Regions from separate parts of the Homo sapiens genome. Here regions 2, 3 and 4 are each reported to be linked to region 1. The links are microRNA targets in miRTarBase. Many come from high-throughput screens and were not tested one by one. Region 1 holds a microRNA gene; each other region holds the end of a gene's coding sequence. Distances are from middle to middle.

Region 1 (3,152 bases):
CCCCTGGGGCCCCCACTAGTGCTGTTGTGCAACCCGGACCATGAGGAATGCTGTACCCCAACTCCAGGCACCCTCAGCCCTTCCCATGATCTCTCACAAACCCCTGCCTGACACTGGGTCACAGTTGTGTCTAACTGCCCTGTGGCTGCAGGGCGGAGCAGCATGGTGTGTGGACAGCACGGGACTGCGAGCTGGTGCACAGGAATGGGTCCCACGCACGGTGTCGCTGCAGCCGGACAGGGACCTTTGGGGTCCTCATGGATGCCTCTCCCCGTGAGGTGGGGCTGTGTTCAGTGTCCCAAGGAAGTGGGGGGTCAAAGGGACACGGGGATTCTGCCCAACAACCCATCAACCATCCCTGTCTCTGTAGAGGCTGGAGGGCGACCTGGAGCTGCTGGCTGTGTTCACCCACGTGGTCGTGGCTGTGTCTGTGGCTGCGCTGGTGCTGACTGCAGCCATCCTGCTGAGCCTGCGCAGCCTCAAGTCCAATGTGCGTGGGATCCATGCCAATGTGGCAGCCGCCCTGGGGGTGGCAGAGCTCCTCTTCCTGCTGGGGATTCACAGGACCCACAATCAGGTGCAGGATCAGGGCCAGGGAACTTGTGTCCTGATGACCCTACTGGCCCAGGAGGCCTGGGGCCAAAACTCAGGGTCAGAGGTCAGGGATGCTCAGGTTGGGGCCAGGGTTTTCAGCAGGATGCTGGGGTAAGATATTGTGGTTTAGGGGTGAGAGGTGGGAAGCAGATGCCTGGGGTAGGGGTCAGAGGTGGGTGAGGCAGGAGAGGTCCTGACACGCCCCCCTGCCCTCAGCTGGTGTGCACTGCAGTCGCCATCCTCCTGCACTACTTCTTCCTCAGCACCTTCGCGTGGCTCTTCGTGCAGGGGCTGCACCTCTACCGCATGCAGGTTGAGCCACGCAACGTGGACCGCGGCGCCATGCGCTTCTACCATGCCCTGGGCTGGGGCGTCCCTGCTGTGCTGCTGGGTGAGGGCTGTGACCCCCAACCTCCAACCATCACATGGCCTGACCCCTGACCCTGTCCCCACTCCTGCTCATGACCCCCAACCTCAAACCCCAAGCCATCTATTCATGGGGTTGCTGCTCTGCCCTCACCCATGCTTTCTCCCATACATGGGCTGGTCAGCAGCTCTGGAACACACACCCTCAGTCCTACCCTTTCTCTTCCCAAGGCCTTGCTGTGGGCCTGGACCCTGAGGGCTATGGGAACCCTGACTTCTGCTGGATCTCAGTCCACGAGCCCCTCATCTGGAGCTTTGCTGGCCCTGTTGTCCTGGTCATAGTGGTGAGTGCCCTGGACTTGGTGCCCCCTCTGTACTTCCCTCCCTCATTGGGGGAGGAGGTGCAGTGGACTCAGCTGAGGGCGGTCAGGTGGCATTCTGCAGGCTTCCTGGGCTCGGCCTTCATTTTTTCTGTCCTCTGGTCAGTAGCCACCCCCATTCAACTGGCATGGAGATGGGGGCGCGGGGTCAGAGATTCAGTTGCCTGTCCCTGCCTCTGTCTCTGCTTCTCTCTCTCAGTCCCTCTCTGGTTCCCAATTTCTTTTTCTGTGATGCTAAGCTCCTTTGGTGTGTGTGTATATGTGTGAATTTCTCACTGGTTCTGCCTCTCTCCGTGAATCTTAGTCTCTCTCTGTCTCTCATTGCCTCTCTCTCTCTCTCTCTCTCTGCCCTGCCCGGCCCCACATGTCTGGCCGTGGGTCCAGATGAACGGGACCATGTTTCTCCTCGCTGCCCGCACATCCTGCTCCACAGGGCAGAGGGAGGCCAAGAAGACCTCTGCACTGTGAGTTGGCTGGCTGGAGGAAGGGGGCTTCTCAGGATGGCAGGTCCCTCCTGGGTGGGGTCTGGGGCCCCCAGATCTTCCCTGGTGCAGGTTGGGCTCCAAGTTCTAGATGAAGGAATGAAGTCACACCTGCCCTGACCTGTGGTCCCTCTCTGGCGCCCTCGCTATACTGTAGCCCCACATGTGCTTCTGCCCTGCTGTCTCTCCTTGTCCTCTGGGTCCCCCCAGAGTCTCCCATGGCCTGGGTGGCTCACTTTGCCCCCTGCCCTGTGTGTTCCCACCTGTCTTCCGTGCCCTCCCTTGTGGCTCCCATACCCCTGTGTTTTCCCCACGTGTCCTCATGGCTCTTTGACTGCTCTCCTGTTTCTTTGTGGGACCTCCCATCTCCCCCAGTGTCCTCCAGAGACCTCCATGTTCCCGTGTGAGTTCCTTTTTTTCACGTTTCGTGTGTGGCCCCTGTGTGTCCTCCCGTGTTCCCTGCATGAGTCCTACATGAGCCTTGCATGTCCTCCTGTGTCTTCCCATGTCCCCACAGCAGGACCCTTCGCAGCTCCTTCCTGCTGCTTCTGCTGGTCAGTGCCTCCTGGCTCTTTGGGCTCCTGGCAGTCAACCACAGCATCCTAGCCTTCCACTACCTCCATGCTGGACTCTGCGGCCTCCAGGTGACTCTGGTGCCCCTCCCTTGCCCCAGAACCAGGTGGGCCTTCAGTAGGCTGGGGCCATCCCTAGGCAGACGTTGACCCTAGGCCTGGAGCTGACTCTTACTGGATAACTTTGCCAGGCTGGGTACTACCCCAGACCAGACACTGGCCCTAGCTGCTGCCCCCAGGCCTGGAGCTGACTCTAACTTAGGCACTGATCCCAGACTGAGTGCTGATCTTGGATCGACCTTCACCAACACCAAGGCTCCCGACCCCTTGCTGATCCACACCGACCTTACAGACTCCAGCCACTCCTGCTGCTCCATCCTCTCCCCTGCTGACCTTCCCCAACTCCCTTACTGAGTCCCGCATGGGCTCCTCACTGACCCACACTAGCCTACAGTGACTGACCCCATTGCTGACCCACAGTGACTTATACTGGTCCCTGATTGATCCCTGCCGACTCTGCTTTGACCCTCGCTGACCCACAGGGCCTGGCGGTGCTGCTGCTCTTCTGTGTCCTAAATGCAGATGCTCGGGCTGCCTGGATGCCAGCCTGTCTGGGCAGGAAGGCAGCGCCTGAGGAGGCAAGGCCAGCACCTGGGCTGGTGAGTCGGGATGGGGGCCCTGAGAAGCCAGAGTTTTAGGCTGCTTCAGGGTTAGCTCACACTCTGTCCCTACCACCCCCAGGGACCTGGGGCCTACAA
Region 2 (3,000 bases), not on the chromosome of region 1:
TAGACCAGATCTACTGCACTGTTAATTAATGTTCCTGATTTATATAGGTTTGTAACTATTTTTTTCAAACAGTTGATACTTGGATGGCTATTGATGTTCTCTCTTCTTTTCACAGAGCATGTCCTTTGCAACCTGATCACACAAATGATGAAAAAGAATAGAACTTTCTCATTCATCTTTGAATAACGTCTCCTTGTTTACCCTGGTATTCTAGAATGTAAATTTACATAAATGTGTTTGTTCCAATTAGCTTTGTTGAACAGGCATTTAATTAAAAAATTTAGGTTTAAATTTAGATGTTCAAAAGTAGTTGTGAAATTTGAGAATTTGTAAGACTAATTATGGTAACTTAGCTTAGTATTCAATATAATGCATTGTTTGGTTTCTTTTACCAAATTAAGTGTCTAGTTCTTGCTAAAATCAAGTCATTGCATTGTGTTCTAATTACAAGTATGTTGTATTTGAGATTTGCTTAGATTGTTGTACTGCTGCCATTTTTATTGGTGTTTGATTATTGGAATGGTGCCATATTGTCACTCCTTCTACTTGCTTTAAAAAGCAGAGTTAGATTTTTGCACATTAAAAAATTCAGTATTAATTAAACATTACTTATTCTACCCTCTTTTTTGGCAAGGAGGACAAATACGCAATGTTGGAAAACCTTGGATGGATATCTTCTCTTTAAAAAAATGTAAAGATAATTTGGTCTTGAGGGTTTAAACGGTTGATAATGCCTCTACAACAACAAGAAAAAAGATAAAATACTAGGATAGAATCATGGTGGGCACAGTGGCTTCTCAGGAGGCTGAGGAGGGAGGTTTGCTTGAGTCCAGGAGTTGGAGACCAGCCCAGGCAACATAGCGTAAACCCTATCTCTAAAACAATTTTTAGCCGGGTGCGGTGGCTCACGCCTGTAATCCCAGCACTCTGGGAGGCCGAGGCGGGTGGATCATGAGGTCAGGAGATCGAGACCATCCTGCCTAACAAGGTGAAACCCCGTCTCTACTAAAAATACAAAAAATTAGCCGGGCGCGGTGGCGGGCGCCTGTAGTCCCAGCTACTCGGGAGGCTGAGGCAGGAGAATGGCGTGAACCCGGGAAGTGGAGCTTGCAGTGAGCCGAGATTGCGCCACTGCAGTCGGCAGTCCGGCTTGGGCGACAGAGCGAGACTCCGTCTCAAAAAAAAAAAAAAAAAAAATTTTAAAAAAGGCTGAGTGCAGTGGCTCACACCTGTAATCCCAGCACTTTGGGAGGCCAAGGCAGGTGGATCACCTGAGATAGGAGTTCAAGACCAGCCTGGCCAGCATGGTGAAACTGTCACTACTAAAAATGAAAAAATGAGCCAGGCATGGTGGCACATGCCTGTAATCCCAGCTACTCAGGAGGCTGAGGCAGGAGAATCGCTTGAACCTGGGAGGTGGAGGTTGCAGTGAGCCCAGATTGTGCCACTGCACTCCAGCCTGAACAACAGAGTGAGACAATGTCTTAAAAAAAAAAAAAGAAAGAAAAGAAAAAAATATATATTTATATATGAACAATAAAAAATTAGCCTGGCATGGTGGCACACACAGTGGAACCAGATCCCATCTCTTAAAAGAAATTTTCCTAGGATTTGCATTTGATTCGCTATCATAAAATATAATTTTAAAGTTGGAAGTCAATATAACATGAAAGGCAAATCATGCCATAAACCCATAGGCATGGCAAAACTCCTAAGAGCTACTATGACATTTTTCAACATAACCAGAGGTATAATTGAAGAAGTGGGTATAATATTCCTCATCACCCTTTTTGCAGCAGCCTGTTGTCAAAAGTAATCATATTTTAGTAGGCATATTTTTCTGAAATACGTTTGTAATAAATGCATACTTATTTTTACAATACACTATCCATTTGTGTGCTTCCTAAAATTATGTCCTATTTTATTCTTTCCAAATACAAATCAGAGCATTGACCTGATTTTAACACCTTCCAAACTGTTTGAGTCCGAATGATTGTAGATTATATTTTTTGCTTTGTCTTTTAGAGGTGGATATTATTAAACAGTATGTTATTGAATTGGGAGCTGAGTTCAAGTACTTATTTGATAATTAGGTTTATTTTTAAGGAGTAGTTTAAACAAAATATCTTGAAGTCAAGTTTTAATGGATCTGACACTTCATTTGCTATTTTTCTTTTCTTTTCTTTTTTAGATGGAGTCTCGCTCTGTCACCCAGGCCAGAGTGCAGTGGCTTGACCTTGGCTCACAACAACTTCTGCCTCCCAGGTTCAAGCGATTCTCCTAACTCAGACTCCGGAGTAGCTGGGACTACAGGTGCTCGCCACCACGCCCAGCTAATTTTTGCATTTTTAGTAGAGGCAGGGTTTCACCATGTTGACCAGGTTGGTCTCCAACTCCCAACTCCTGACCTCAGGTGATCCGCCTGACTGGGCCTCCCAAAGTGCTGGGAATTTTTTTTTTTTTTTTTTTTTTTGAGACAGTCTCACTCTGTTGCCCAGGCTGGAGTGCAGTGGCGCAATCTTGGCTCACTGCAAGCTCCACCTCCCAGGTTCACACCATTCTCCTGCCTCAGCCTCCCTAGTAGCTGGGACTACAGGTGCCTGCCACCATGCCCTGCTAATTGTTTTTGTATTTTTAGTAGAGATGGGGTTTCACCCTGTTAGCCAGGATGATCTTGATCTCCTGACCTCGTGATCTGCCCGCGTCGGCCTCCCAAAATGCTGGGATTACAGGTGTGAGTCACTGCAGCCGGCCAAGATTCAAATTTTTTAGAAACAATTACATGCCTACATTCAACTTCAGTCTGGGAGCAGTGGCTCACGCCTATAATCCCAGCACTTTGGGAGGCCGAGGCAGGTGAATCACCTGAGGTCAGGAGTTCGAGACCAGCCTGGCCAACATGGTGAAACCCTGACTCTACTAAAAGTGCAAAAAAAGACTGGGCATGGTGGCTCACGCCTGTAATCCTAGCACTTTGGGAGGCCAAGGCGGGCAGATCAT
Region 3 (3,000 bases), 3.6 Mb from region 1:
TTGTTCCATTTTTCCAAATAGGAAAAAGAAGACAAACAAGGGCCCCGCTGTGGGTATCTACAATGACAACATCAATACTGAGATGCCGAGGCAGCCAAAAAAGTTTCAGAAAGGGCGAAAGGACAATGACTCCCATGTGTATGCAGTCATCGAGGACACCATGGTATATGGGCATCTGCTACAGGATTCCAGCGGCTCCTTCCTGCAGCCAGAGGTGGACACCTACCGGCCGTTCCAGGGCACCATGGGGGTCTGTCCTCCCTCCCCACCCACCATATGCTCCAGGGCCCCAACTGCAAAGTTGGCCACTGAGGAGCCACCTCCTCGCTCCCCTCCTGAGTCTGAGAGTGAACCGTACACCTTCTCCCATCCCAACAATGGGGATGTAAGCAGCAAGGACACAGACATTCCCTTACTGAACACTCAGGAGCCCATGGAGCCAGCAGAATAACTTGATCCATTCCAGACGCTTTGCTGAGTTTCATAAAGCAGGGCACTGAGACACCCGTCCGTGTTCCTAACCAGAAATCCTAAAGAAGAGGAATTATACAGAAGGAACAGCAGGAGGTTTTCCTGGACACCGCCAACTTCACATTGCTCAGTGGACTCATTCTAAGGGCAAGACATTGAAAATGATGAATTCCAATCTGGATACAGTCATGACAGCTCATGTGCTCCTCAACTTAGGCTGTGCGGTTAGCCAGCCTGTAATGAGAGGAGAGAGGCCTGAGTCACCTAGCATAGGGTTGCAGCAAGCCCTGGATTCAGAGTGTTAAACAGAGGCTTGCCCTCTTCAGGACAACAGTTCCAATTCCAAGGAGCCTACCTGAGGTCCCTACTCTCACTGGGGTCCCCAGGATGAAAACGACAATGTGCCTTTTTATTATTATTTATTTGGTGGTCCTGTGTTATTTAAGAGATCAAATGTATAACCACCTAGCTCTTTTCACCTGACTTAGTAATAACTCATACTAACTGGTTTGGATGCCTGGGTTGTGACTTCTACTGACCGCTAGATAAACGTGTGCCTGTCCCCCAGGTGGTGGGAATAATTTACAATCTGTCCAACCAGAAAAGAATGTGTGTGTTTGAGCAGCATTGACACATATCTGCTTTGATAAGAGACTTCCTGATTCTCTAGGTCGGTTCGTGGTTATCCCATTGTGGAAATTCATCTTGAATCCCATTGTCCTATAGTCCTAGCAATAAGAGAAATTTCCTCAAGTTTCCATGTGCGGTTCTCCTAGCTGCAGCAATACTTTGACATTTAAAGAGAAATTTAGAGAATATTCTCATCCTCTAAAAATGTTTAAATATATACCAAACAGTGGCCCCCTGCATTAGTTTTCTGTTGCCACTGCAACCTATTACTTGGTAGCTTAAAAACAACACATTAGCTTATAGTCCTGGGGATCAGAATTCCAAAATGGATGTCCCTGAATGAAAATCAAGGTGTCAGCAGAGCTGTGCTCCTTCTGAAGGCTCTAGGGAGAAGCCGGTTCCTTGCCATTTCAAGCTTCTAGAGGCTGGCTGCATTCCCAGGCTCCAGTGGCTGGTCAAGCTTTTCTCACATGGCATCACTGTGACACTGGCCCTCCCACTTCCCTCTTTGACTTACAAAGCCCACCAGGAAGATCCAGGATAATCTCTCCATCTAAAGTTCCTTCATCATCCTGGAAGAGCCTTTTGCCATGCAAGACAACATAGCCACAGGTGGGGATTAGGACCAGAACATCTTTGGGGTGCTGTTATTCTGCCTACCACACCTTCCTGCCACTGACTCCCACAGGAGAGGCTACAAAATGATCTGGCGCACAGGGATGTTTTGTTTAGCTTGCGGACTCTAACACTTAAAAAAAAACCCAGATCAGAAGATCTGGCCATGCTGGGGCTCACATTCTCACCTAGCAACAACTGGCTGGAGCTGGGCACCAGCTCTGCCTTTAGAAGGGGTGTCCACTTCACCAGGTCACCACAGCCCACACTACGCCCTATCACTTCCCACAATGAGGCTGAGTGTTTGTTTCTACTGATCAATGCCCCTGCAGGTTGCATTTATTGTAATGAAAAAGAAAGACTGGGATTAATCTCTAATCAGGTGAGTAGACCATGAGACCAATGTGTGCTCACATTACCCTTTTTCTTTTTTTTCTTTTTCTTTTTCTTTTTTTTTTTAATGTGAGACAGGATCTCATTCTGTTGCCTAGGCTGGAGTGCAGTGGCGCAATCTCGGCTCACTGCAACCTCTGCCTCCTGGGCTCAAGCAATTCTCCCACCTCAGCCTCCCAAATAGCTGGGATCACTGGCACAAACCACCATGCCCAGCTAATTTTGTATTTTTTGTAGAGACAGGGTTTCACCATGTTGCCCAGGCTGGTCTCAACCTCCTGGGCTCAAGCAATCCTCCTGCCTCGGCCTCCCAAAGTGCTGGGATTACAGATGTGAGCCACCGCATCCAGCCCCACACCCTCATTTATACCAATTACCTGCCCAGTAACTGTGGACTTTTGCTTCCTCACCCCTGCTCTGATCTGGAAGGAGAGGGATTATGTTATAGCTTGTCAGCACAGTCCCAAGTTCAATATTTCTGCGGCAAAAACTTCCTTCAAAAAATAAATGTACTTCATTGTATTCAATGAATTCACCTTGGAAATGCACCGCCTCAACTTGTTCACATGGCATAAATGAAAGGAATTTTATAGTCTCCTAAATGGCGTGTACTGCAAGACCTCTTGAACACTTTCCAGAGGATAGGATATTTAAGTCATGCCCTTGGCGTTGCCTATGGCACCTTTCCCTTCTGAAAGTCTGGTTCCTGCCCAGTGACCCTTGGCCTTGTGAGCCGAGATGCTGACCCTGCATAAAGGGCCAAAGGAGGGCTGCGGCTTCCTTCCCTCACTGAAGAGCCCTTATTTGAATTCACTGTGTGGAGCCCTAGCCCTCCATTCTCGACATTCCCCAACCTCCCAGCCCCTTCCAAGCAGGACTAGGTGCCCTGCA
Region 4 (3,000 bases), 64 Mb from region 1:
ACTGATTGTAACAAAGGCACCACTGAAGTACAGGATGTTGATGATGGGAGAAACTGTGCATGTGTGGGGGAAGACGGTATAGAAACTCTCAATGCTCACCGCTTAGCTTTGCTGAACCTAAAAGTGCTCTGAAAAAAGTTTATATATTTAGCAAAATAGATATGATCGCGCCAGAGAATTCATTCTGGGGACTAGATAGTTTTGGTTGGTGCACAAAACTGATCAAATAAACCACATATACCAAACCTAGCCTCTACTAGTTTTCTCAAATTGTGGACACTGGGAAACATATTAAAATTGGTTGGCATGTCTTTTAAAGATGATGATTAAAGAGCCATTTTCTAGACCTCCTGAATCAGAATTTCTTAGTGCTGCAAGTTAATAGTCTGCAGTTTAGCAAGTTATTCGGGTCGCTTTTATGTGTCAGGGGGTTTAAGAATCAGTATTCTATTCATGTCCACACATTTTGGGGTACAAAATCAGATGCCAAATTGATTTCAAATAAGTTTTAATAACTTTACCTTCTCATTGAGCACAATCACAAGCTTAAAATTTGTGAAAAACCATTAAATTATCTACATATTCTTTTTCTCAAACCCTCTATAAACTAATGAAATAAGCCATGTAAATAATAGTGAAGTAGAGTCATTTGGGAAAATGCATGTATGTCTCTGACACCATTTTGAAAAGGAATAAAAACATAAATGATTTGTGATTTTGGCAAACAGTACAAATATATTAATACATCTTAGAGATGAAATCATTATCAGCATTATCTTTACTATAAGACATACTAAGGATATTTTAAATAAGACAGAAATATTTTGCTTTTAAGTTTGAGAGAATCATGAAGGAACTGTTCAATTTCGTGTGTTCATCTGATAAGAGGACAGCTAAATGTATCCTCCCCATATTTCCTGTTTCTATTTTTAAGAATACCACAAGCAGCTATTCTAACATGTCTTTCTTACATAAGTTGTCCACAAATGCAGCCTGGCTAAAACAGCCTATCTCGAATTGGTTGCTTGAAATTCTAGGTGTAATTGGCAAAATAACAGTGACTCAAAAGAATATTTGCACCCCCAAATCTAAGGAGCTAAAACTTAATGCCAGTGTTACTTAAGAAAATCTCTCCACCACAAAACCTCAGTTTTGTCTTTTTGTATATATACCCCACTTGTATTCTAAACTCCATAATTTCACATATTATTTTCTTTAATGACCCATTTACTCTAGTATTTTGAGCTTCATAAGCAAACTGAAAATATAATGTCAATTTGATCAGTTTCTCGTGCACCATTTCTGTTGTCACCCACCCCACCTAACACACACACACACACACACACACACACACATCACATTCCTTTGTGCAGCAGCTCAGCTCACATATTTGTTGAAATGGATTTTAACCTTTGCTATCCACTTTGTATGAAGACTATTACATTATTCAGTAGCAGCACCTGAGAATTCGAATAGCCTCAAACTGTTGAATAAAATTATAGGCTATTTTTGAAATAGTTTAACTCAAGTACTTTGGAAAGTCCAAAAATCTGAATCCATCTTTTGCTATACTCTTAAGTGGCTGCAACCTCAGTATTTTAAAATAAATGATTAGCAAACTAAAATATGTCACTACAGATGATTTGCCCTGATTCCTTAGTAAGAAGAACAGCAAGATGCAGATGTGGTGAATGAAAGCAAATTGACCCCTACAGACCAATTAAATATTCTGGGTTTTCCTCCATTCCATTAATTGCACTTTAACTTGCTATCAAGTCAAGCATGAAGCAGTTTAAGCTATCTTCACTTGCCCAGTGATACCTATTCTGACTAACTTTTAAACTATTCAGATGCCCATAAGTATATTAATTCAGCAGCATTATGTCACATTCCTATCCATTAGTCTATGTGACCCAGTGAGTCTCTACTTTCCTCATAAATGTGCTATACGTTGACTGCTCCATTAATACCTATATTTGCTTATCAATCTAACAGAGTAGATATAAGCATTTGTTTGCCAGGTATGTGGAACATCTACCCTATATCCAATTGGTATATTCTATATTTTTATTGCACCATTTATTATTTTCATTTTCTTACATCAAGCCTAAAATGATTTCTCCTTTGCATTTAAGAAACACCATTCTTAGACTGACACAGCAAAAATTTCTTATTTTGGAAGACTGACTTGAAATATACAATCATTACTGTATTTATGGTTGGTTAGTCAAATTGGGACATTTTGTTTTCAAGAGTGTGTAGTGAACTGATGCAGGTAACACAAACCTCTTTTCCCTACAAGTCTTTCCAATAGCTTCAAAGGCAAGATCGAGTTTGTATATTGGGTAAAATGTAGCTAAGTTTAAACGTTCTACTATTCTGCTACTCATGATGTCAACCAGTTTTGGAGAGATTTTGTTATTCAAGGCTATAATATAAAAAGCTCCCAAATAAGTTTCTGAGAGAAATTTTAATCATTTATCCTATGGACCCTTAAGACCCAAGCACTAACATGAACATTTCTAAAGTAAAAATTCTCAAATTGAGAAATATTATTTGACATCCTGTTGAGCCCAGACAATGATGTCAACATGCTGATCATTCAATGGTCCCTGTTGGAGTCAGAAACAGACTTAACTCCTCACACATATGGATGCATATTCTGTTGGTGCTTCTTTTACATTTCTTGCCAGTCTTGAGTTCGGTCCAATGACAGAATGGTTCAGGGAAGCATAAACAATGCCTGGTTTGTTTTCTTCCAGGCATGGATTAGAATAAACTTCAGACCCTTCCTGCATCCTGAAACAAAGGTCAGGGTCATTATCATAAATTCCAGTTTCTGATAGCAGTACTTGGGAATTTTGCCTGGTGCTTGCTTCTGTTTGCTCACTCTTAAGGTGAGCATCAACCTACAATAGAAAAAAAGATGGTTTTAAGTGACACTTACGGCCATGGTAGTGCATATTCATTAGCAAACTATGAATGAAAAGCTTAAATGGA

What was found. Region 1 holds the annotated microRNA hsa-miR-4793-3p (UCUGCACUGUGAGUUGGCUGGCU, at 1,797-1,819, shown strand). A microRNA usually pairs through its seed, bases 2 to 8, with sites in the 3' UTR of a target mRNA and lowers its output. Matches are read on the target gene's strand: a 7mer-m8 pairs with bases 2 to 8, a 7mer-A1 pairs with bases 2 to 7 and ends in A, and an 8mer does both.
Region 2: miRTarBase lists PCLAF as a target of hsa-miR-4793-3p. Seed matches in the 3' UTR shown: 7mer-m8 at 1,213-1,219.
Region 3: the mRNA of CDCP1 is a reported target of hsa-miR-4793-3p. Seed matches in the 3' UTR shown: 7mer-m8 at 2,213-2,219.
Region 4: the mRNA of BTLA is a reported target of hsa-miR-4793-3p. The part of its 3' UTR that is shown has no 7-base or 8-base seed match.

The regions. Positions count from the first base shown.
Region 1 is chr3:48,642,868-48,646,019 of GRCh38, reverse strand. MIR4793 (microRNA 4793) reads left to right here and starts at 1,740; the gene lies at 1,740-1,826. It overlaps CELSR3 (cadherin EGF LAG seven-pass G-type receptor 3), which reads left to right. Exons shown (of 35, transcript NM_001407.3): 23 at 152-278; 24 at 371-577; 25 at 811-985; 26 at 1,192-1,304; 27 at 1,725-1,804; 28 at 2,343-2,466; 29 at 2,937-3,053; 30 at 3,136-3,152.
Region 2 is chr15:64,363,191-64,366,190 of GRCh38, reverse strand. It overlaps PCLAF (PCNA clamp associated factor), which reads left to right. Exons shown (of 4, transcript NM_014736.6): 4 at 116-1,887. The coding sequence ends at 161. Among named protein-coding and RNA genes, the nearest start is that of CSNK1G1, 8.5 kb to the right of the region's middle.
Region 3 is chr3:45,083,089-45,086,088 of GRCh38, reverse strand. It overlaps CDCP1 (CUB domain containing protein 1), which reads left to right. Exons shown (of 9, transcript NM_022842.5): 9 at 22-3,000. The coding sequence ends at 451. Among named protein-coding and RNA genes, the nearest start is that of CLEC3B, 58 kb to the right of the region's middle.
Region 4 is chr3:112,463,475-112,466,474 of GRCh38, forward strand. BTLA (B and T lymphocyte associated) reads right to left here. Exons shown (of 5, transcript NM_181780.4): 5 at 492-2,909. The coding sequence ends at 2,634. Among named protein-coding and RNA genes, the nearest start is that of BTLA, 34 kb to the right of the region's middle. RefSeq lists enhancers at 41-180, 2,618-3,000.